3 linked regions of the Homo sapiens genome follow. The protein of the gene in region 1 purifies or fractionates together with the protein of each later gene. This does not show direct contact. Each region holds a gene or a part of one and is shown on either strand. Other genes may lie near its edges.

Region 1 (7,131 bases):
GGAATTCCAGTTGCCATCCTTTAGGATAGGGTCCTTGGACAGACAGAATGAGGGCAGGTGTGAACATGCTGAGCTCACATGGTGCCAGTTACCCTTGCCCTTGACTCTTAGACAATTCATTTTGAAGTGAACTAATACACTAGGCAAACAACTTCAAAACTCTGGAAATGGAAATGAAATAGCAAGATGCCAGGCTGGGCGCGGTGGCTCACGTCTGTAATCCCAGCACTTTGGGAGGCCGAGGCAGGCAGATCACCTGAGGTCAGGGGTTTGAGACCAGCCTGGCCAACATGGTGAAACCCCATCGCCACTAAAAAATACAAAATTTAGCCGAGCGTGGTGATGCATGCCTGTAATCCCAGCTACTGGGGAGGCTGAAGCAGGAGAATCGCTTGAACCCAGAAGGTGGAGGTTGCAGTGAGATGAGATTGCGCCACTGAACTCCAGCCTGGGCGACAGAGCGAGACTCCATTTGAAAAAAAAAGAAAAGAAGTAGCAAGATGCCACCACACTGACAAACCGCATCTCTGTGCTTTCCTCCTGGGGAGCAGATCTTTTCAAGCAGGGAGGACAGCAGGCTGTGGGTGGGGAGCAGAGGGTTGGCTGGGACCCAACCGGAAAGGCACCCCCTCCTTCCAGAACCAGGCAGGTTTGTGGCCTCACCAAACCCAGGCAGCCTGGGCACCAAAGCCACGGAGCAGGGTGGCACTGATGCCTGGGCCTCCCAACCGCTCCTGGGGCTTGGCAAACAAGTGATAGTCCTGATCAAGTGCTCTAGTGCTCTTGGTGGAAACCAATGTATGGAACTCATTACCCACCCTCCTGCCAAATCAGACACACCCAGGCCGGCTCCCTCTGCTACTCCCTCTGCCCGGAAGGTCTTTTCCCACCCCAGTCTCTGCCCGCCTGAGTCCTGGCAGTCTGTGAAAGCCCAGCTCAAATGCCACTTCCACAGTTCCCCAGCCTTTCCCATGGAGCCCCCAGGAGCAGATTGCACCGCTCTTTTGGCACTTGGAGTTGCAACAGTCTGAATGTGTGTGTACCCTCAGAATTGATGTGTTGAGATCCTGACCCCTAAGGTGATGGTCCTAGGAGGTGGGGTCTTCAGGTGGGCGGAGCCTCATTCATGGCATGAGTGCCCTTGTCCAAGGGGCCCCAAAGGCTCTCTGGCTGTCTCTTGGCCATGTGAGGACACAGTGGGAAGGCAGCCATCTACAACCCAGGAAGCAGCTCTCACTGGAACCCTGACTGTGCTGTCACCGTGATCGCAGACTTCCAGCCTCCAGAACTGTGAGGAGTGTCTGTTGTGTATAAGCCACCCAGTCTCTGGTGTTCTGGGATAGCAGCCCAGACACACTAAGACAGGGGTTCCTGAGTGCCTGGAGAGCCAGCTCCCTCCCCAAGAGGCTGGGTCCCTCCTTCTTTCTTTCTTCTTTTCTTTTCTTTTTTTTTTTTTTTTTTTTTTGAGATGGAGTCTCGCTGTGTCACCGAGGCTGGAGAGTACAGTGGCACAACCTCTGCCTCCTTGGTTCAAGCGATTCTCCTGCCTCAGACTCCCGAGTAGCTGGGAATACAAGTGTGTGCACCACCACGCCCGGCTAATTTTTTTGTATTTTTAGTAGAGATGGGGTTTCGCCATGTTAACCAGGCTGGTCTGGAACTCGTGACCTCAAGTGATCCGCCCGCCTCAGCCTCCCAAAGTCCTGGGATTCCAGGCGTGAGCCACCACACCCGGCACATTTGTGCTCTTTTGCTTGTGTTTTCTCCTCTTTAGCTCTGAACTCATGAAGTGCCTTCTGAACATTTCTAGTCTGGTCTCAGGGGACCTGAGGGTATTTTCCCACCCCCCAAGCCTAGAGAGCTGGGGAAACAGAGGCAGGAATGCAGACCCGGTGGGAGAGGTGGACAAGGGTTTGGGTGTGGGACAAGCAGCAGTGTGTGCTGAGGTTTAGGGAAGGGCCAGGGTCCTGGAACACAGAGAGGGCCAGGAACACCGGGGGACATGCATGACCTCTAGCACATTTGGGCCTGGGCCTCTCTCCAACATTTCCTTACTTATGCACTGTTATAGGTTGAATCCTGTTCCCTGAAAAAGACGTATTCGGATCCTAACCCCCAGGACCTGTGGCTGTGACCTTATTTGGAAATAGAGTATTTTCAGATGTGACTGAGTTAAGATGAGGGCATACTGGAGTAGAGCGTGCCCTAATCCAACAACTGGTGTCCTGATAAGAGGAAATGGGCACCGGGCACAGTGGCTCACGCCTGTAATCCTAGCACTTTGGGAGGCTGAGGCAGGCAGATTACTCGAGCCCAGCAGTTTGAGTGGGCAACAGAGCAAGACTCCCTAAAAAAAAAAAAAAAAAGGACATTTGAACACAGACACAGAGAAAAGGCAAATGACAACAGAGACTGATATTAGAGCGCATCTTACAGCTACAAGCCAAGGAACGCCAAGAATTGCCAGCCAGTACCAGAAGCTGGGACAGACGCCCAGGACAGAGTCTCCCTCAGATCCTGCAGAAGGAAGCCACGCTGCAGCACCTTACTGAAACACAGCATTTCTTTCTATTCCAAATGGAGAGAATACACCAGAGTGGTATGAGCAGTTACCTGTGACTTTGTCACTAACCAAAATTACAGATATCTCTGGGTGCGGTGGCTCATGTCTGTAATCCCAGCACTTTGGGAGGCCGAGGCGGGTGGATCACCTGAAGTCAGCAGTTCGAGACCAGCTTGGCCAACATGGTGAAACCCCGTCTCTACTAAAAATACAAAAATTAGCCAAATGTGGTGGCGGGCGCCTGTAATCCCAGCTACTCAAGAGTCCGAGGAGGGAGAATCGCTTGAACCCAGGAGACAGAGGTTGCAGTGAGCTGAGATTGCGCCACTGCACTCCAGCCTGGGCGACAAGAGCGAAACTCCATCTAAAAAAATAAAAATAAAAAAACATTATTTGGAATTTTCAATGCGAAATATGTCTGTTCTCCCCAGCTTGTTAATTTATTATTTATTTATATCGGCATGGACTCATAGATGTTTATTTTACACTTTGGGTTATAATCAGTGCTACTTTACTTATTTTGTTGTCATTCTGGTGTAGTGTTTTAACTTAACATTATTGAGATATAACTCATACAATAAAACGCACCACTTTAAGTGCATAATTAGATGAGCTTTAAATACTTCCAGTTGGGGAACCCCCAACCCCACCACAGGTGTCCCCAGTGTCCAGGGGCCAGAACTACATTCCTCAGACAAGGGACTTAGGGAATGACGTCAACTTCCCATTTCAGGTCTAGAAAAGTCCAAGTTCCCTACTTGGGGTAAAGAGTCGCTAAAGGAGCTGGGCGCTGTGGCTCACGCCTGTAATCCCAGCACTTTGGGAGGCCGAGGCAGGTGGATCACCTGAGGTCACGAGTTCAAGACCAGCCTGGACAAGGTGAAACTCCGTCTCTACAAAAAAATACAAAAATTTGCCTGGTGTGGTGGCAAGCGCCTATAATTCCAGCTACTTGGGAGGCTAAGGCAGGAGAATCACTTGAATCCGGGAGGCGGAGGTTGCAGTGAGCCGAGATAGCGCCCCTGCACTCCAGCCTGGGCGACAAGAGAGGAACTCTGTCTCAAAAAAAAAAAAAAAAAGAGTCGCTAAGGGGCAAAAACATATGTACATCAGCAGTTATTTTTCTCTGCAGTCAGCAGCTCAGGAACTTTGCTAAGGGTGCCAGGGAGGGGTCGAGCGCAAAGGTGCAGGCATGACACAGCTAGACGCGCCCAGCCCCTGCGGAGCGCTGGCCTGGCCCAGAAGGACCAGAGGGATGGAGGCTGAGTCCTTCCCATTCCTTCCACTGTACCTCTCGCGTTCTCCGCCCGCGCTCACTCAGTTTCACACCCTTTCAGCAGCGCCCTTCCTTAGGACCACGCGGACTCCCCTGGGGGTCGCGCGGGCTCGGAGGCCTCCCTGCGTTGTCTGGGCGGGGACTGGGAGTCCGCGGGCCCGCAGGCGGGCGGTGCTGCGGGGCGGGCCGAGCTGGGGGCGGGCGGGGGCCGGAGCCCTGGCCTAGGTCCCAGGGGGAGGTGCCGCGGCGCGAACGGCCCGGGTCCCTCCCAGGCCGGAGCACAATCGGCGGCGCCCTGGGCGGCCGCGGAGTCATGGACGGCAGTGGACCCTTCAGCTGCCCCATCTGCCTAGAGCCACTCCGGGAGCCGGTGACGCTGCCCTGCGGCCACAACTTCTGTCTCGCCTGCCTGGGCGCGCTCTGGCCGCATCGTGGCGCGAGTGGAGCCGGCGGACCCGGAGGCGCGGCCCGCTGCCCGCTGTGCCAGGAGCCCTTCCCCGACGGCCTTCAGCTCCGCAAGAACCACACGCTGTCCGAGCTGCTGCAGCTCCGCCAGGGCTCGGGCCCCGGGTCCGGCCCCGGCCCGGCCCCTGCCCTGGCCCCGGAGCCCTCGGCACCCAGCGCGCTGCCCAGTGTCCCGGAGCCGTCGGCCCCCTGCGCTCCCGAGCCGTGGCCCGCGGGCGAAGAGCCAGTGCGCTGCGACGCGTGCCCCGAGGGCGCGGCCCTGCCCGCCGCGCTGTCCTGCCTCTCCTGCCTCGCCTCCTTTTGCCCCGCGCACCTGGGCCCGCACGAGCGCAGCCCCGCCCTCCGCGGACACCGCCTGGTGCCGCCGCTGCGCCGGCTAGAGGAGAGCCTGTGCCCGCGCCACCTACGGCCGCTCGAGCGCTACTGCCGCGCGGAGCGCGTGTGTCTGTGCGAGGCCTGCGCCGCACAGGAGCACCGCGGCCACGAGCTGGTGCCGCTGGAGCAGGAGCGCGCGCTTCAGGAGGTGGGCTCCGGGGGCACACTCGGGTGAGCCGGGGCTGGTGACCGACCGCGCGCGAGCGGGCCGAGGACCTTGGACCCCCCAGTCTTCCCGGGTTGGGTCTTAATCTCCTCCTCTAACCTGAGGATCTTTGCGGTCCCTTCCAGCCTTGACAAGGTCATCTGCTGGCGGTGATGGAGATGGGAAGGGAGGAAGGAGGGACGTGAGAACAGGACAAGGACGCGAAGAGCGGGCAGGGGACCTGAAGCCGGGCCGGGGTCTATGGGGGTGTAGGCGGGAGGGAGCCGGGTTAGGCCCGCGGGGTTCCGGTAGCGTGGCTGCTGCTCCCGCCCGGAGGGTCACGCCGGTCTCAGCTCAGATTTGCCCTGGGCTGAGGCAGCAGCTTTCGATGGGTGTGGCAGGCGGCAGGAGGGCGGCAGAGGGCGACCGGGCACACAGATTCTCTGTCCAGCTGTTCCGGGGGCCAGTGGTGGGAGCATGTGAGCCGCGGCCTCTACCTCCCGCCCCCAGTTTCCTTTGGCCTCCAGCCCGGTCTTGGCGCCTCTGGCCAAGGGATTTTCCGTTTCTCCTGCCTGGAGCAGTGACTCATAAGACCTAGGGGATTTGCCCGGAATCCCCTTTTTTCCAGGCCTGGACTGTGGATGCAGGCTCTTTGGGAACAGTGATCCTCAGGACAGCTTAATGCCTCCTTGTGCAGTCACCCCTCCGCCGCCCACCTCCCAACCTAACTGGCTTACTCTCTGCCTCTTCCCCGCCGGAGGAAGTTCTCAAATTCATCTGAGCAACACTGAGACCAGCGGACGGCCCTGTACTAGGCCTCCTGTCAGAGACCCGAGGCAGACACCCAGTCAGCCTGCACGCCCCCCAGGCGTTCAGGAAAGGCACCAGCCTGGGCTGCAGGCACCTCTGGCATATTATGGGACATCGTGGCCACTCCAGTCCCACCTGATGCACAGATACCACTCCCCAGTCACCCCCTTCTCTCCCCTGGCAAGGCCTGGGACCCGAGTGTAGGGCTGTGGCCTCTGCCAGACCTCACACTCATGGAGGGTGTTGTCCACAGGCTGAGCAGTCCAAAGTCCTGAGCGCCGTGGAGGACCGCATGGACGAGCTGGGTGCTGGCATTGCACAGTCCAGGCGCACAGTGGCCCTCATCAAGGTCAAACACCCCTCCCTCAGCATGGAACAATCCACTCCAAACAAACCATGCCCATACCTACTGAGCACAAGTGTCCCCTGACCTGGCCCAGATCCAGGACAGGCTCAGTCTGGCCCCTCTGTCCCCTCAAGAGGGCCGGTGGGAAGCCGGGGTCAGGGAAGGAGGGGGGTACAGTCCGGGACGGTTCTTTGCCCTCATTGCCCCCTCTACTGTCGTCCTGTGCAGAGTGCAGCCGTAGCAGAGCGGGAGAGGGTGAGCCGGCTGTTTGCAGATGCTGCGGCCGCCCTGCAGGGCTTCCAGACCCAGGTGCTGGGCTTCATCGAGGAGGGGGAAGCTGCCATGCTAGGCCGCTCCCAGGGTGACCTGCGGCGACAGGAGGAACAGCGCAGCCGCCTGAGCCGAGCCCGCCAGAATCTCAGCCAGGTCCCTGAAGCTGACTCAGTCAGCTTCCTGCAGGTGAAGGCCGCTCTGGGGGCCACGGAAGGAACAGAAGCTGGGACAGGTGGGGTGGAGGGAGGAGGAGGCAGTGGGTGCATGACTTCCTGGCAGAGCTGCCTCCACCCCCAGCAAGGAGGAGCCATGGCCAGCAGCACTTTAATGGGCATTTGTCTGGCACAGGAGCTGCTGGCACTAAGGCTGGCCCTGGAGGATGGGTGTGGCCCTGGGCCTGGACCCCCGAGGGAGCTCAGCTTCACCAAATCATCCCAAGCTGTCCGTGCAGTGAGAGACATGCTGGCCGTGGCCTGCGTCAACCAGTGGGAGCAGCTGAGGGGGCCGGGTGGCAACGAGGATGGGCCACAGAAGCTGGACTCGGAAGGTGGGCACCGCCCCACGCCCCCCCGATGACTCACCCTCTGCCAGCCTCTCGCACAGGCCCCCAGGCCTGGCGCCCATCCAGAAGTGGAGGAGGAAAATTGTGCCTGGCACAGGGAGGAGCCCAAATCCTGCCAGTGACTAGAGCTGCCACCCTGTGGGGATCAATCAGCCCCTTGGACCTGGGGTAGAGGGGGCTTCTCCTAGCCCACCCTCTAGCTCCAGAGGGCTGTGGCCCGGGAAGCACATGGGGCAAGAGGCAGAACACAGGCAACGGGCATGTGTGTGAGCACAGCGTGCCACATCTGGGTGGTGCTTGCTCCCTGGTGGCTCTG
Region 2 (7,026 bases), on another chromosome or scaffold:
GCTGCCCCCCTTTTCTTGATTATATGGTAAGAAGTAGGCTATGGTTAAACAGAAGAAAAAATATTTACAGAAAAGCCATGCTAATACAAACTGGCTTTCAACAAATCCAGATTTAAATAGCTCCAGTGTAAGAATTTACAACAAAAACAAGCTATATCAAATTACTAGACAGCTAGGAAAAATGGTAATTATTCTCTCTGGTTTTCCTAAATATGATCCCCTTAGTTTCATAAGCTCAATACTTCAAATACCATCAAAGTTCATAAAATAATTCTACTTACCTGTTCTTATCAATTCTAATTAAAACTATACTTTAAAAATGACTTTGATATTGTCTAATCACTTTACTATAAATGATGGGAAAATTGATGTCTAATATATAACTGAAAATAATTATCTGTTAATTTTTTTGAAGTTAATTACAATGTTAATGCCATTGCATGCTGAGGTTATTTCTGAATACTGGATATTTTGTTTTACCAGTATCATCAAGGTTTTTTGTTTGTGTTTTTTTTTTTTTTAATTGAGCTTGGCACTTCAACCTAATGTGCATATCACGAAGTGTATTCAATTTTTTAAAAATATTTATTGTTAACAGCCCTCTATTACTAATGGACACCTAAATACTGACTCTAAAACACATGAGTTTTAATGCATCAGTACGTTGGATATTTGAAAACCCTTCACTTCTTCCTGTTTCTTTAGGGGTAAACTGATCCAATCACATCTTTGGCCCAAAACTTGACTAGGTCTGTCACATAACTCTTGGAACTTTGATAGTAGAAAACTTTTTCTATGCATTAATTTACAAAAGCCAATGGGGAGTTTAAAAAGCAGTTAGATGTTTGTTACCTTCTTTTGAGATGGTTTATGTTTTTTTCATAAGAATTAATATACATACACATATAAAATGTATACATATAAAACATATACATTAGATTTCTAATATTTTGAACTATGATCATCTTTCCATCCTTTATTAAAGTGTTTCTGCTGTATTTTGTAATGTGTTTCTAATTGTTAAAAATTGGGACTACGTAAATGCAATTTGCTGTTTTCTTTTTAGCTATACTTGTAATAATTCTTGTTCTAAAAGTAAGCCCATTTTTCCCCACTTAGTTTTTTTATAGGCCAGTTATCTTTTTATTCATGTGTATTGGTACAGTTTCCACAGATCATTTTGTTAATTTGAATAAGAATGTAATGCTATCATCTAGAAATATAGTAACATCTGTATCATATCTAGATAGGCCATTTTACAAATACATTATATTTGTGGAGAGATATCTAGAGCTAAAACATTTACATAGGACACATATATACACGTAGGTCCCCGCCCAACTATAACGTGTCTTCTTTTTAAATTCTGGCAGGTGATCTTTAGACAGTGACTGAGTATGGATCATTTGAACGAGGCAACTCAGGGGAAAGAACATTCAGAAATGTCTAACAATGTGAGTGATCCGAAGGGTCCACCAGCCAAGATTGCCCGCCTGGAGCAGAACGGGAGCCCGCTAGGAAGAGGAAGGCTTGGGAGTACAGGTGCAAAAATGCAGGGAGTGCCTTTAAAACACTCGGGCCATCTGATGAAAACCAACCTTAGGAAAGGTAAATACCTTCAAGCCAAATCTTGAAAAGCTGAAAGCCCTGTTGTCTACACAAGGCCACACTGTGTGGGGGTGGAGTGGCAGAACATGTTTTGTATACTCTGCCTTTATTCTCCTTATGATCGTACATTAGTTACATTCTGGGTCCTTAGTATCAATCACGTTGGAAAGTATAGCCTCCATGCTTGGGTGGAGCGTTCTACTGTAGACTGGAATCATGGAACATTTTGGGTAATAAGGACTGAATTAAATATAATGGTTTTAGTTTTGGCAGGGTCCATTCAAAAGGTGTTGTAGTCGAGGATTGTAGGCAGCTGTTTCTTCAAACTAACCTGATTAAGAATAAAACACTTAGGTGATTTGAGAGTTACCCTAGCTTCTTCCTAAGATTCTTAGTTGTAGGGCAGTTTCAGAGATCTTGGACATCTTATGTAGAAGTTTGGTAATGTTATTTTTTGTGGCTTATTTTCTTAAGAGCAAATTCATTAGCAGTAAAAAATCTGATGATTCTAGTTTTTTATTTTTGTTTTAATTGGGTATTTTTGATGAAGAAAGAACAGATTTAGGCAAGTTTATAAGGGGAAGATGTGTAACTGTGTGACTTTTTTCTACCAATATTAAATTGATGCAGTTTAACAACTTGGACTGTGTTTAACAGTGTTGTTCCTGTAAAGCAGTGCCTACCCTGGGTGTAATGCATGTGCCTCATAAGGAGCTTCATTTTGTGTCTGAATAACATGTATAGGAATCAGATTTTCCTTACATTTGCTAAGCAATGGATAAAAATGCTATATTTTAGCAACCAAGAATATTAAGTAGATAAAGTTAGAAGGCAGAGGAATTTCATTGTGTTTGATGCGTAACATTTATCATACAATCATTTATTTTTTCCTTGGTTTGGCGAAAACAAAGAATATATTGATCCTGAAATGAACAGACACAGCAGTCCGTATTGTTAGATCTTTATCTATTAAAAATGGGAAAACAGCACTTCAGCAAATTCTTTGGCCTCTACTCATGATTACCCTATTTATTGATTGTTTGCCAAGAATGTATGCATCTTAAGAAAGCCAGGGTAAGAGCATTAAAAATATAATTTATTACGGCTTTTCAAACAGAGTGCATTAATATTGTACTGTGAAGCACTGGGGCTGTATAAAAAAGACTTTCTGACGCCTGCAAACATGTAAGTTCCATAAATTCCTAAATAGGAGATTTCAGCTGTCTCTGGTATTATGTGATATTTGCACAGCAAACTTTAATGCCAGGACAGTTTTAGACAAGGATTCTACAGACTTCACTGCTCCTTATGGCAGACGTGCTGTTTACACAGGCTCATAAACCTTCAGCAAAAGCTTCTAAGACTGCCTTCAGGTTTAAATCATGTGGTATTTTTAGCATTCAGCAGTGACCAGTGCTCTCCCCTTTAAATGCTGGAAGGTTATGAAGTTGCTGTAGTTGGAACTCTCGCCAAACACTAGCACGAATAATCATACAGTTCAGAAAAGGCTTGTGTTCAGCATTACTCCCAGAAACGGGAGGGTAACCGCAACAGTTTGCTAGAAGGTCTGTAATTAGATAGTACTATTGTCACTTTATAGCCGTCTTTATTATTTTAGGGTACCTCTAAACATGATCAATAAAATCCACAATAAATCCAATATATTTCAATAGTTTGAAAACCCTGCAGTTATTTCATAGATCTAAGGAAAAGCATATTGTAGAATACATCTGATTCATCCTACAAAAGGAAAAATGAATGTGTACATTTTTGTTGTACTTACCCAACTCTTTGAAGATATCAGGACAGGAGGAGGAAAACTAAAAGTACAGTAAATTCACTTCCTGCTCAAATGCTTTTTGGTTTTGTTTTGTTTTGTTTTGGATGTATTCTAAAAATGCAGTTTAATTGTAGGAGGGTCTCAGATACTCCAAATAACAAAATTACTAAAGTCTTTTTGTGGGTTTTTATTAACATTTTCATCTTATTTTTCATGTGCATGGTTTCTGTCTGATAGGTGCTAAATGAAAATTATGGCTGAGATGAGAAAACACTACTAAGAAAAAGGGATTGAATGGTTTTATTTGTTTAGGCGATTTTGCCAGAATACCTTCAAGCCAAGGAAGGAATCGCCAGTTTGCATATTGCTATTTTTGCTGTGGTCTCCCCAAGTTGTCTTCTGATCCCCGACGGGTTCTTTCTCTGGTATAAAACAGCTGAATGAATGACAAAAATATTGGCAAGCTCTGCGGCTTGTTTTTCATGCCTAGCCTATTGGTACCTCCGAATGAGTTTGTGAGTTTTTCTAAGTAAACCTAAAGGGTTTTGTCAGACCTAGAATCTCTTGTGAACAGTTCACTAAAGCTTTGGTGAAGACTCACATGTAGAAAGATGTAGCTGTTTTATTGCCGGCTTTTGTTCAGCAGAAACAAGCAAATAGAGAATCTTTGAAGGGCCTCTCTGGTGTCAGTAGGAAATCCTGATTTTTAGCTACGGTTGGTGTGCACTAAGTCATCTTCAGAAGTTGGTAGGATTCTGTGAGTCCAGAGGACAGAGCTTATAGAGGCATTAGTATTGTAGGACTAATTGTGGATCCTGGGTGCCCTGTTAAAGTAACCCTTGTCATCATTTATGCTAAAGATGATACCCTTCTGGCAGTTTGCCACAGTACAATTCAGATGCATCTGCTTTTAACCCTTTTCCGTTATCATTGGAAGTCTGACAGTGCGCTGCATAAACACCTTGAGTACCACAGCATTCCGTAATATCAATTTCTAGAAGAAGCCTCTTTCTAATAGTAGTGTGGCCGGTGCTTATTAATCATCTAGCTACTGAGTTACTGTATTGGATTAAAATATATAAAGAGAGAGCACACCAAATCTATGCAGATTCCTTTATCCTAGTATGTCAGTTTCCTTTTCTATCTCTCATTTTTACCTTATTTACTGTAACAAAGATTGTTGATTTTAAAGACTTATGGGTACCGTGCTCTCTTTTTAGTTAGGTAGGTTAAATGAGTATTCATAAAAGCAAATGTTATTTTTCTACATTATGCAGATATTGAAATTGTGTATTATGAGCACCAGTTTGGTTAAGTACTTTTTGTGGAACCAGTTAGAGCTAATATCTAAAAAAGGAAGAAAATGATTTGTGGAACCAGTTAGAGTTAATATCTAAAAAAGGAAGAAAATGAAAATTTCGTGGTCGAAGATAATTTGTTTGGACACAAACCCAGGAAAAGTTTATTATTAACAAAATCATGTAAGCAGTAGAAAGGTGGGTTCTTCTGAAGATAAATGGTGAGTTATGTTTGCATACTGTATACTACTCATAGCAAATTAGAGAAGATACATTTATTTCTCTTTCGTCACCATTATTATTTGATCAGAAAGGTAATTCTGCATTCATTGCTTTTGGAAAATGCACTGTTAATTTAGAGCACAGCTTACCTTAGGACCAAGTTCATATTCTACTTAAATATTTCTGTTACGACTTTAAATAATATGAGAATGTATATATTTGTGTGCATTTGCCTGTACTGTACCCAGTCTGCCTTGGAAGCACAGTGAATCTCTTGTGATTATTTATTTTCATGGCTAATATTTCCTCCCGCCACCCCCAAGCTGTATTTCTGAAGATTGTTGGTTTTCCATCTCTTCTTCTTCATCTTTTTGATAGGAACCATGCTGCCAGTTTTCTGTGTGGTGGAACATTATGAAAACGCCATTGAATATGATTGCAAGGAGGAGCATGCAGAATTTGTGCTGGTGAGAAAGGATATGCTTTTCAACCAGCTGATCGAAATGGCATTGCTGTCTCTAGGTTATTCACATAGCTCTGCTGCCCAGGCCAAAGGTAAATAATGTGTACGTGGGGTTGGAAAAATTGCTTAGCATTCTTTGTTTACCTTGCAGAGAAAGCACTGAATATTTTTATTCAAAGAACTGTAGCCTGTGTATTACATTGGTTCCTTATAGGCTGTGGCTTTAAAAAATTGGCTTAATTCAGTTTGGTTTAGTTAACACACATTTTGCTCATGTGGAATGTCGAGGTAGATTTTTTTTTTAAATTACTTCAGCTGAATCATTAGTATGCTTATTGACCTTAATAATCTGCTCCACTGAGGACCCACAAGGAAGTGAGGAGCGTATTTGAGCAGATGGACTGTTGAGAGTCAATTTGCATTTATGACTGAATATCTAGTTCTGTTTCTTTTATTCTGTTTCTGATGGTTTTATGGGCTGCAAAGTATTTTTCAATGCTGATTCCCACTGCAATAGAGAATCTTATCTAAATCATAAAGCCATTTAGAACTGGTTCGGCTATGTCTTATTAGAACTTCCTGTAAGTTAGGAAAATGTGGCCTTATGCATAGGTTTTATTGATGGGGTTTTATTTCCAAAATAATAAACAACCCTACAGTCATTTACATAATTTTACAATTTGGAAAGCTAAGCTGTGAATATTTTCATTGACCTGCCTTTTAGAGGGAAGGGAATCATTCAAACAGAAATAACGGTACTGCTTGTGGTAGGGGTAGTAGAAAAGAAAAGAACACCCTTCTAGTAGATATATTATCTGAGGGTAAAATATTTAGTGACATATTCTCTTTATCTGAAATAGGGCTAATCCAGGTTGGAAAGTGGAATCCAGTTCCACTGTCTTACGTGACAGATGCCCCTGATGCTACAGTAGCAGATATGCTTCAAGATGTGTATCATGTGGTCACATTGAAAATTCAGTTACACAGGTGAGTCAAGACAGCAAATCTAGGGTGAAACATTCTTCTTACCTGGTCTTTTGAAATGAAGCATTTCTCTCTGGTCGACCTTCAATTTTTTTTTAGTCTGTGTTTCAGAAAGGTTAATACAGATCGATTTTGTTACCCTATCCTTCTGCCTTTTTTCCTAACTTCAATGTATAATTTAAAAGCAATCCCCCCCCCCACACACACAAAAAATGTGTAGGTTTGTGCAGGTTATCAAAAGACAAGACTTTTTACGTTTAGTCAATTAAATAATGCATCACAAGAAGGCATTTTACATAAAGTTTACTTAAGAAAAAAATATTTTTGCATATCATGAACAGTGCCATCTGTGTACATTTTGTGAAAGACTGTCTTATTCACTATTACCACAGTCTTATTTATTTATTTATTTTTTTATGATTTTTAATTCATATGAACAGAGTAATGAAAGGAAATCGGTTAATACATTAAAGCTTTTCATGATGGCTCAGGAGAAAGCAGTACACCTTAAATTGTCTTCCCAAGCGCATCAGAGCAGGAAGGTAGAAGTAACATGAAAAAATAGCCACCACAGGCAGCTGATGTATAATTCATGCATCGATACAGCAGATGTGTTGTATAAAGTAATTAACTAATCGGAACAATCAGGAGACCGAGAGCAATCTCCAGAT
Region 3 (7,026 bases), on another chromosome or scaffold:
GGCAAATCACAGTCAGCAAACATCAGTGGTGCCCGAAATTCCATCCTGGGCTCAGGTGGAACTTTGCTCTGGTTCTGCCACTAACTCCCCCACCCCACCCCTACCCAGGTCACCACATTTGGCGACTTTAACTAGTGCTATTACCCTACCCTTGTTTATTTGTTAAGTGCCCATGCTTCCAAGGAGGTGAAAGTCCACTTCCCTGACAGCCTGGGACAAAGGCAGCCTGTGTTGAGTTAGCCTTCCTGCCACACACAGACCCGGCCTCACCTCCAGCAGCCTATCTCGCACAGAAGGTTCCTGTTCCTTGTCTGTTCCTGGGGTTCAGTTTGCCAGCAAAAAGCACTTTACACATAGTTCACTAATGTCATAGGAGGACATCTCTAAAAGTTAAAAAAGTTGGCCAGGCATGGTGGCTCATGCCTGTAATCCCAGCACTTTGGGAGGCTGAGGCGGGCAGATCACCTGAGGTTAGGAGTTCGCGACCAGCCTGACCAACATGGCGAAACCCCGTCTCTACTAAAAATACAAGTGTGGTGGCAGGCGCCTGTAGTCCCAGCTACTCAGGAGCTGAGGCAGGAGAATCGCTCGAACCCAGGAGGCAGAACTTGCAGTGAGCCGAGATCACGCCACTGCACTCCAGCCTGGGAGACAGGGCAAGACTACATCTCAGAAAAAAAAAAAAAAAAGAAAGAAAGACTGCACCAGTTAACTGAAGGTTTGTGTAAATGTACACGAATAAATGTGGGAGCTATTTTTGAAGAAGCAATGTCGTCCACTGCTTCAGTTGGCACACCCATTCGTCTCAGGAAAACAGCCTTTTGGTGACTAAAGTAGAAAAGCTAGAAATGGATGGATACAGTTTATGGCAAACAGAATATCTACAGCCCCATCAGGTCCATAAATGCATTTTAGTTGGCCAACATAGTGTTGCACACATGCAGAAACATTATGTTTTTTACAATCCAGTGTTTCTTGAACCATTAATAGAAGCCTTGGCAAGGCGGGCCCCCTCCTCCCAATTGTAATTGCTGGAACTCTTCAGTTCACCCCAGTTCCACCCTTGCCCCCCGGCCTTCCTTCCCCAGCACACTTCATCATCCCTATGGCCTGCCTGGACCTGGCATTTGGGTCATTTGAGTAACAGCTGCTCTGAGGAATTCACATTGGAACAAAGACCCCCTCTTGTGCCAGTCTGAGATGGCATTTCTCACCTCCATAGTCTGCTCGGGAGGCATACACTCTCTCTTGGTCTCCTGCCCCCTTTCCACCACACATCATCATCTCTGTCCCTCCATGGGCATCACCTCCCACCTCCACATACCCCTGCCAATCCCCCACACATATCATTCATTTGCTCACAGACACCAGCCAAGCCCCCAGCCTCCTGTGAGGTCTCTCACCGGGTCCAGCATGAAGCAGTTGACCCCACAGTCCATGGCAAGGACCAGCATGGTGGCACTGCCATACAGTGCGTAGCCGGCTGCCACCAGGTTCCGGCCTGGTTGCAGAGCATCCTTCTCAGAAGGCTCATCAGTTGATTTCTAGAGCAAGAAAGAAATCAAAGAATGTTTTTGTTTTGTTTTGTGATTCTTTTTTACAGTTCAACCATTAACAGGAGGCATTCTCAAGGTGCTCTTCTAATGAAATAGGGCATCTTCCCAGAGGGGCCTTCCCCTACACATCAGCAATATCCTGATTAGATTATCACGGCAGCCTTCCCACCAGAACCCAGATTTCCTGCATCTGGATTCCTCTTTCCAATTAGGGCCCTCCTCCAATTTTTCTAATGTGATATTCCCTCATCTCTCCACTATCAGTTCCAAAAAAGAGCATGCCTTCTTGCCAGTTCCCACTAATTTAATCTTATTACGGGCATCCATCTCTGTCACCTGCCTACTCCATCTTTATTTAAATAAATTAACACTGGGCTGCAGGGCAGCCAGTCTGCGGAGGAAATCAGTTTTGTGAGCTCTTGCCGCTGCAGCCCATACTCTGCTGAGCATGTGGTCTATATCACTCACACGTCAGGGAAATTCTCAGAAACGTAGGAACTCAGAATATCTCCCCAGAGTCATTATGGGGTAGAGCAGATGCTGTCCAGTGTTTTAACCGTGATGCATGGGAAGAAGCACATTTTACATCACAAACCAGTGCCCCCACACACACACCAAAAAGTTACCAAAATAATACCTACACTTAGAACGTGGCATGTGCCGTAATCCATTTTTTCATTAAAAACACAGCCCACTGGGTCATGTGGTCCAGAGTTTTTCTAACACTAGGGAAGGGAGCCCCTTAAGGAGACAGCTCCTAACCACTGATTTCTTACTATTAATGATTTTCTTCTTTTTTTTTTTTTTTGACACGGAGTCTCGCTCTGTCGCCCAGGCTGGAGTGCAGTGGTGCTATCTCGGCTCACTGCAAGCTCCGCCTCGCGGGTTCACACCATTCTCCTGCCTCAGCCTCCCAAGTAGCTGGGAGTACAGGCGCCTGCCACCACACCCAGTTAATTTTTTGTATTTTTAGTAGAGAGGGGGTTTCACCGTGTTAGCCAGGATGGTCTCTATTTCCTGACCTCGTGATCCACCTGCCTCGGCCTCCCAAAGTGCTGGGATTACAGGCGTGAGCCACTGCGCCCAGCCTGATCTTCTTTATTAACACTGGATTGACCTCTTTGGTCATCAAGACAGCCCCAAACAAATCTTTCAGCTTAACTACTCTCTGCTTGAATTAAGCAGAAATAAAAATATGCAATTTCTCGAACTTCACTTATTCTTTTCCTAGATTCCTGCAGCTGAGCGTAAGCAGGGGCATCTGTATCACGCAGCTGGAGAAGGAAGTCATCCCAGCAAAACATTCCAGGTAATTTCTTCCCATAACTTTCAAAAGGGTGGCCCACAGAGCACCTGCATTAGAATCACCTGGGATATTTATTAAAAATGCACATTCACAGCCGGGGTCATGACTCATCCCTATAATCCCAGCACTTTGGGAGGCTAAGGTAGGAGGATCATTTGAGGCAAGGAGTTTGAGACCAGTTTGTGCAACACTGGGAGACCCCATCTCTACGAAAAAAAATTTTTTTTTAATTAGCCAGGCATGGTGGCATGTGCCTGTGGCTACTAAGGAGGCTGAGGCTGGAGGATCACTTGAACCTGGGAGGTCGAGGCTGCAGTGAGCCATTATCATTCCACTGCACATGCCTGGGTGACAGAATGAGAACCTGCCTCTTTAAGAAAAAGAAAAGAAATGCATATTCTGGGGCTACAGCCTAGACACACTGTCAGACTTTCCATGGCGGGGCCTGAGAATCTGCATTGCACTATGCAATGTGAAGGGGTGACCTTCACACTCAAGTGTAAGAACTTCACATTCAAGCATAACAACTACTCATATAAATGAGAAAACCACAAACCAGAAAACCACAAACCCATTTCTTTCCACCGCTTCCCTGCCCCTCCTAGTTTTCACCTGGGGAGGTGGTTAGTTAGCTGGTTGCACTGGGTTATTTGATTCAGTTTGGTTTGTATTCACCAGACAGTACAGTGGAGCTAAACACAGACTAAACTTACAGGATCAAAACTTTGAGGGAATAATTCCAAGTTTTGCCAATGCACAACCTTGAAAAATGAAATTAATGGCCTTTGTCAACATGCGCTGCCTGTCAGAGGCTCATTTTAACAATCACCAGCTTCCCTTGAAGCCAGGTACACAGTGGGTGGACTCAGGACTCTAACTCTCCTCTCCTCCCACTGCAGGCTTCAAGTAACCAGTTCTCTGCCAATAAAGGCCCCTTTTCCCAGAGATTCACCTCGCCCAGAACCATCCGTGCCGGCCTGTGGCAAAGGTGCAAAAGTAAACAGCCCTTCCCTGACATACGGTCACCAAATGCTCTACATTTATACACTTCCTCGCACGGAATAAAAAATAATAGTAATACTTGTCTATGACCCACATACTCAAAACGAAGAGAAAATTATCCCACTGAGCCATGGATTTGGAGGAATTCTTTTCTAGCCCAGCCCCCAATTTTTTTTTTTTTTTTTTTTTTTTTGGAGACAGAGTCTTGCTCTATCGCCAGGCTGGAGTGCAGTGGCACAATCTTGGCTCACTACAACCTCCACCTCTTGGGTTCAAGTGATTCTCCTGCCTCAGCCTCCCAAGTAGCTGGGATTACAGGCGCCCACCACCACGCCTGGCTAATTTTTTTTTTTATTTTTAGTAGAGATGGGGTTTCACCATGTTGGCCAAGATGGTCTCGAACTCTGGACCTCAGGTGATCCGCCTGCCTCAGCCTCCCAAAGAGCTGGGATCAGCCCCCTTTCTAATTCCTTCCTCCAAATGCTCAGCAATGCATGCCTTTCCTCCAAGGGAAACATATTCCATTCTCCTGCAGATGCCCAGGGACCAATGAGCACGGAGCACTTGGCAAAATCAGAAACCTCTGGACCCTTCCTTTCTCTGCCTATCTGAGGCCACCACCTGCTGTAGGCACTGGCTCCATGTCATCACATATTATTCCATGTCATCACATAAGGAGAAGTAGGCACAGAAACGGAGGGCCTGGGGGAGGAGAGACTGTCACGTCCACAGTGGTCTTTCCTCGGAGCAGAAACCAAACCCTACTTTTCTGAATCTCTGCTTTTGTGGTGGGAGCTGTAAAGGACATTGCAAGTTAGAGTATGTCCAGTAGAGGGTGATCAGGCTAGAGAGAAGTCTCAGATCCCTCTCCTGTGAAAGATGTTCAGCTTAAAGGGAAAAAAAGTGGGTGTGGTGGGCATTATTGGGAGGGCAGAAACACTGTTTCCAAACATGTCAAAGAATCTTATTTTCTTATGCTCTAAACAGCCAAGTGAGCAAAATGAAACAGATTTCAACTCAATATTTGGACAAACCATGATGGTTACCCAGCATTGCAGGAGAATTCGCCCTGTCAGGATGTCTCCAGCCAGACACTGGTGGGGCCAGGCACCGTGGCTCATGCCCGTAATCCCAACACTTTGGGAGGTCGAGGCGGGAGGATCGCCTCAGCCCAGGAGTTCAACACCAGCCTGGGAAACATAGCGAGACCCCCTTGTCTCTACAGACAATACAAAAATTAGCCAGGTGTGGTGGTGCACCTGTAGTCCCAGCCACTCAGGAGGCTGAGGTAGGAGGATGGCTTAAACCCGGGAGGGTGAGGCTGCAGTGAGCCATGATGGCGCCACTGCTCTCAGCCTGGGCGACAGAGTGAGACCTTGTCTCAAAAAAAAGAAAAAAAAGAAGAAAAAAAAAAGGCCGGACGCAGTGGCTCACGCCTGTAATCCTAGCACTTTGGGAGGCCGAGGCGGGCGGATCACGAGGTCAGGAGATTGCCACCATCCTGGCTAACACACGGTGAAACCCCGTCTCTACTAAAAATACAAAAAAAATTAGCCAAGCGTGGTGGCGGGCGCCTGTAGTCCCAGCTACTCGGGAGGCTGAGGCAGGAGAATGGCGTGAACCCGGGAGGCAGGGCTTGCAGTGAGCCGAGATCGTGCTACTGCACTCCAGCCTGGGCGACACAGGAGACTCCATCTCAAAAAAAGAAAAAAAGAAAGAAAAAGGAAGAAGGAAGAAAAGGAAGAAGAAGAGGAGGGAGAAGGAGGAGGGGAAGAAGGCAGAGGAGGAAGGGGGGGACGAGGAGGAGCAGGGGGAGGAGGAGGGAGGGAGAAGGGGGAGGGACAGGGAGAAGAAAGAGAAAGAATAGTAGTAGTCGTGGCCGGGCGCGGTGGCTCACGCCTGTAATTCCAGCACTTTGGGAGGCCGAGGTGGGCGGATCACGAGGTCAGGAGATCGAGACCATCCTGGCTAAAACAATGAAACCCCGTCTCTACTAAAAATACAAAAAATTAGCCAAGCGTGGTGGTGGGCGCCTGTAGTCCCAGCTACTCAGGAGGCTGAGGCAGGAAAATCGCTTGAACCAGGGAGGCAGAGGTCGCAGGGAGCTGAGATGGCGCCACTGCACTCCAGCCTGGGCGACAGAGAGAGACTCTGTCTCAAAAAAGAAATAGTAGTAGTCGGTAGGCCCTGGAAAGATGCTGTGGCAGGAGCTGCATGCAACATGACCACACATCCTTCCACGTGCCTTTCCAGGAATCGTGTAGCAAGGCCTGGTCACCATGGCAGGGTCACAGTTACTGATGCTGCCCCACTGGGCGTGGGCACCATGGTGCGATTCTAGCCAACAATCATCTCTGCAGAAAGCAGGAAAAATCCCCTTGGAAGCATTATAGATGTCTATGTTTATGCCTCATGAGCCCTCAACTGGTTTCAGCTGTTTCAAGCAATCAATAAGGCTTCAAAAAACTGAAATGACTTAGAGGTCTGTGTCATACTCATCATCACTTTCTTTTTATTAATTAATTAATTTATTTATTTATTTTTTGAGACAGAGTCTTGCTCTGTCACCCAGGCTGGAGTGCAGTGGTGCGATCTCGGCTCACTGCAAGCTCCGCCTCCCAGGTTCACACCATTCTCCTGCCTCAGCCTCCCAGGTAGCTGGGACTACAGGGGCCTGCCACCACACCCGGCTGATTTTTTGTATTTTTGGTGGAGATGGGGTTTCACCGTGTTAGCCAGGATGGTCGCAATCTCCTGACCTCGTGATCCGCCCGCCTGGGCCTCCCAAAGTGCTGGGATTACCGGGGTGAGCCACCGCACCAGGCCCCACTTTCTGTCTTTTAAAAAAGTCACTTCTGGTTCATTGAGAAGACAGCCGAGCCTTATTGTTGAGAATTCTGTCATTCATAATTCAAGCTGCTGTTGCAAGCTGGCTTGATTTTTTTTTTTTAGTTGATAGCCAATGTCTCTCAATTTCCCAGGTTTTTTTTCCTTAAAAAGTATTATTTGGGGGGACTGAGATGGAGAATGGGCTTAGTAAACATCAACACTGCTTTAGTTGTGGTTAACACATTAGCCAGATGTCTTCCTCTGCAAGGAAGAATTTTGCTACAAACCTCTCCTGCTATTCTGTGGATTTGATATTTTGCAAGGAAAATTGCA

Evidence for each region. Proteins that work in one complex are often made in the same cells at the same time.
Region 2: the proteins of TRIM47 (region 1) and SATB1 purify together in Homo sapiens (affinity purification with mass spectrometry; 4 studies listed by BioGRID and IntAct, with this or other methods). This does not show direct contact.
Region 3: the proteins of TRIM47 (region 1) and FBP1 purify together in Homo sapiens (affinity purification with western blotting; 3 studies listed by BioGRID). This does not show direct contact.

Annotation. Positions count from the first base shown.
Region 1 is NC_000017.11:75,875,570-75,882,700, reverse strand, and holds the start of TRIM47 (E3 ubiquitin-protein ligase TRIM47), read left to right. Parts: upstream 1-4,119; 5' UTR 4,120-4,152; coding exon 4,153-4,827; exon of another isoform or gene 4,828-4,850; intron 4,851-4,876; exon of another isoform or gene 4,877-4,980; intron 4,981-5,887; coding exon 5,888-5,983; intron 5,984-6,208; coding exon 6,209-6,439; intron 6,440-6,601; coding exon 6,602-6,800; intron 6,801-7,131. UniProt on the Homo sapiens protein: E3 ubiquitin-protein ligase that mediates the ubiquitination and proteasomal degradation of CYLD.
Region 2 is NC_000003.12:18,415,339-18,422,364, reverse strand, and holds part of SATB1 (DNA-binding protein SATB1), read left to right. Parts: intron 1-1,373; 5' UTR 1,374-1,397; coding exon 1,398-1,608; intron 1,609-5,286; coding exon 5,287-5,463; intron 5,464-6,231; coding exon 6,232-6,358; intron 6,359-7,026. UniProt on the Homo sapiens protein: Crucial silencing factor contributing to the initiation of X inactivation mediated by Xist RNA that occurs during embryogenesis and in lymphoma.
Region 3 is NC_000009.12:94,608,518-94,615,543, forward strand, and holds part of FBP1 (fructose-1,6-bisphosphatase 1), read right to left. Parts: intron 1,545-7,026; coding exon 1,404-1,544; intron 1-1,403. UniProt on the Homo sapiens protein: Catalyzes the hydrolysis of fructose 1,6-bisphosphate to fructose 6-phosphate in the presence of divalent cations, acting as a rate-limiting enzyme in gluconeogenesis. Plays a role in regulating glucose sensing and insulin secretion of pancreatic beta-cells.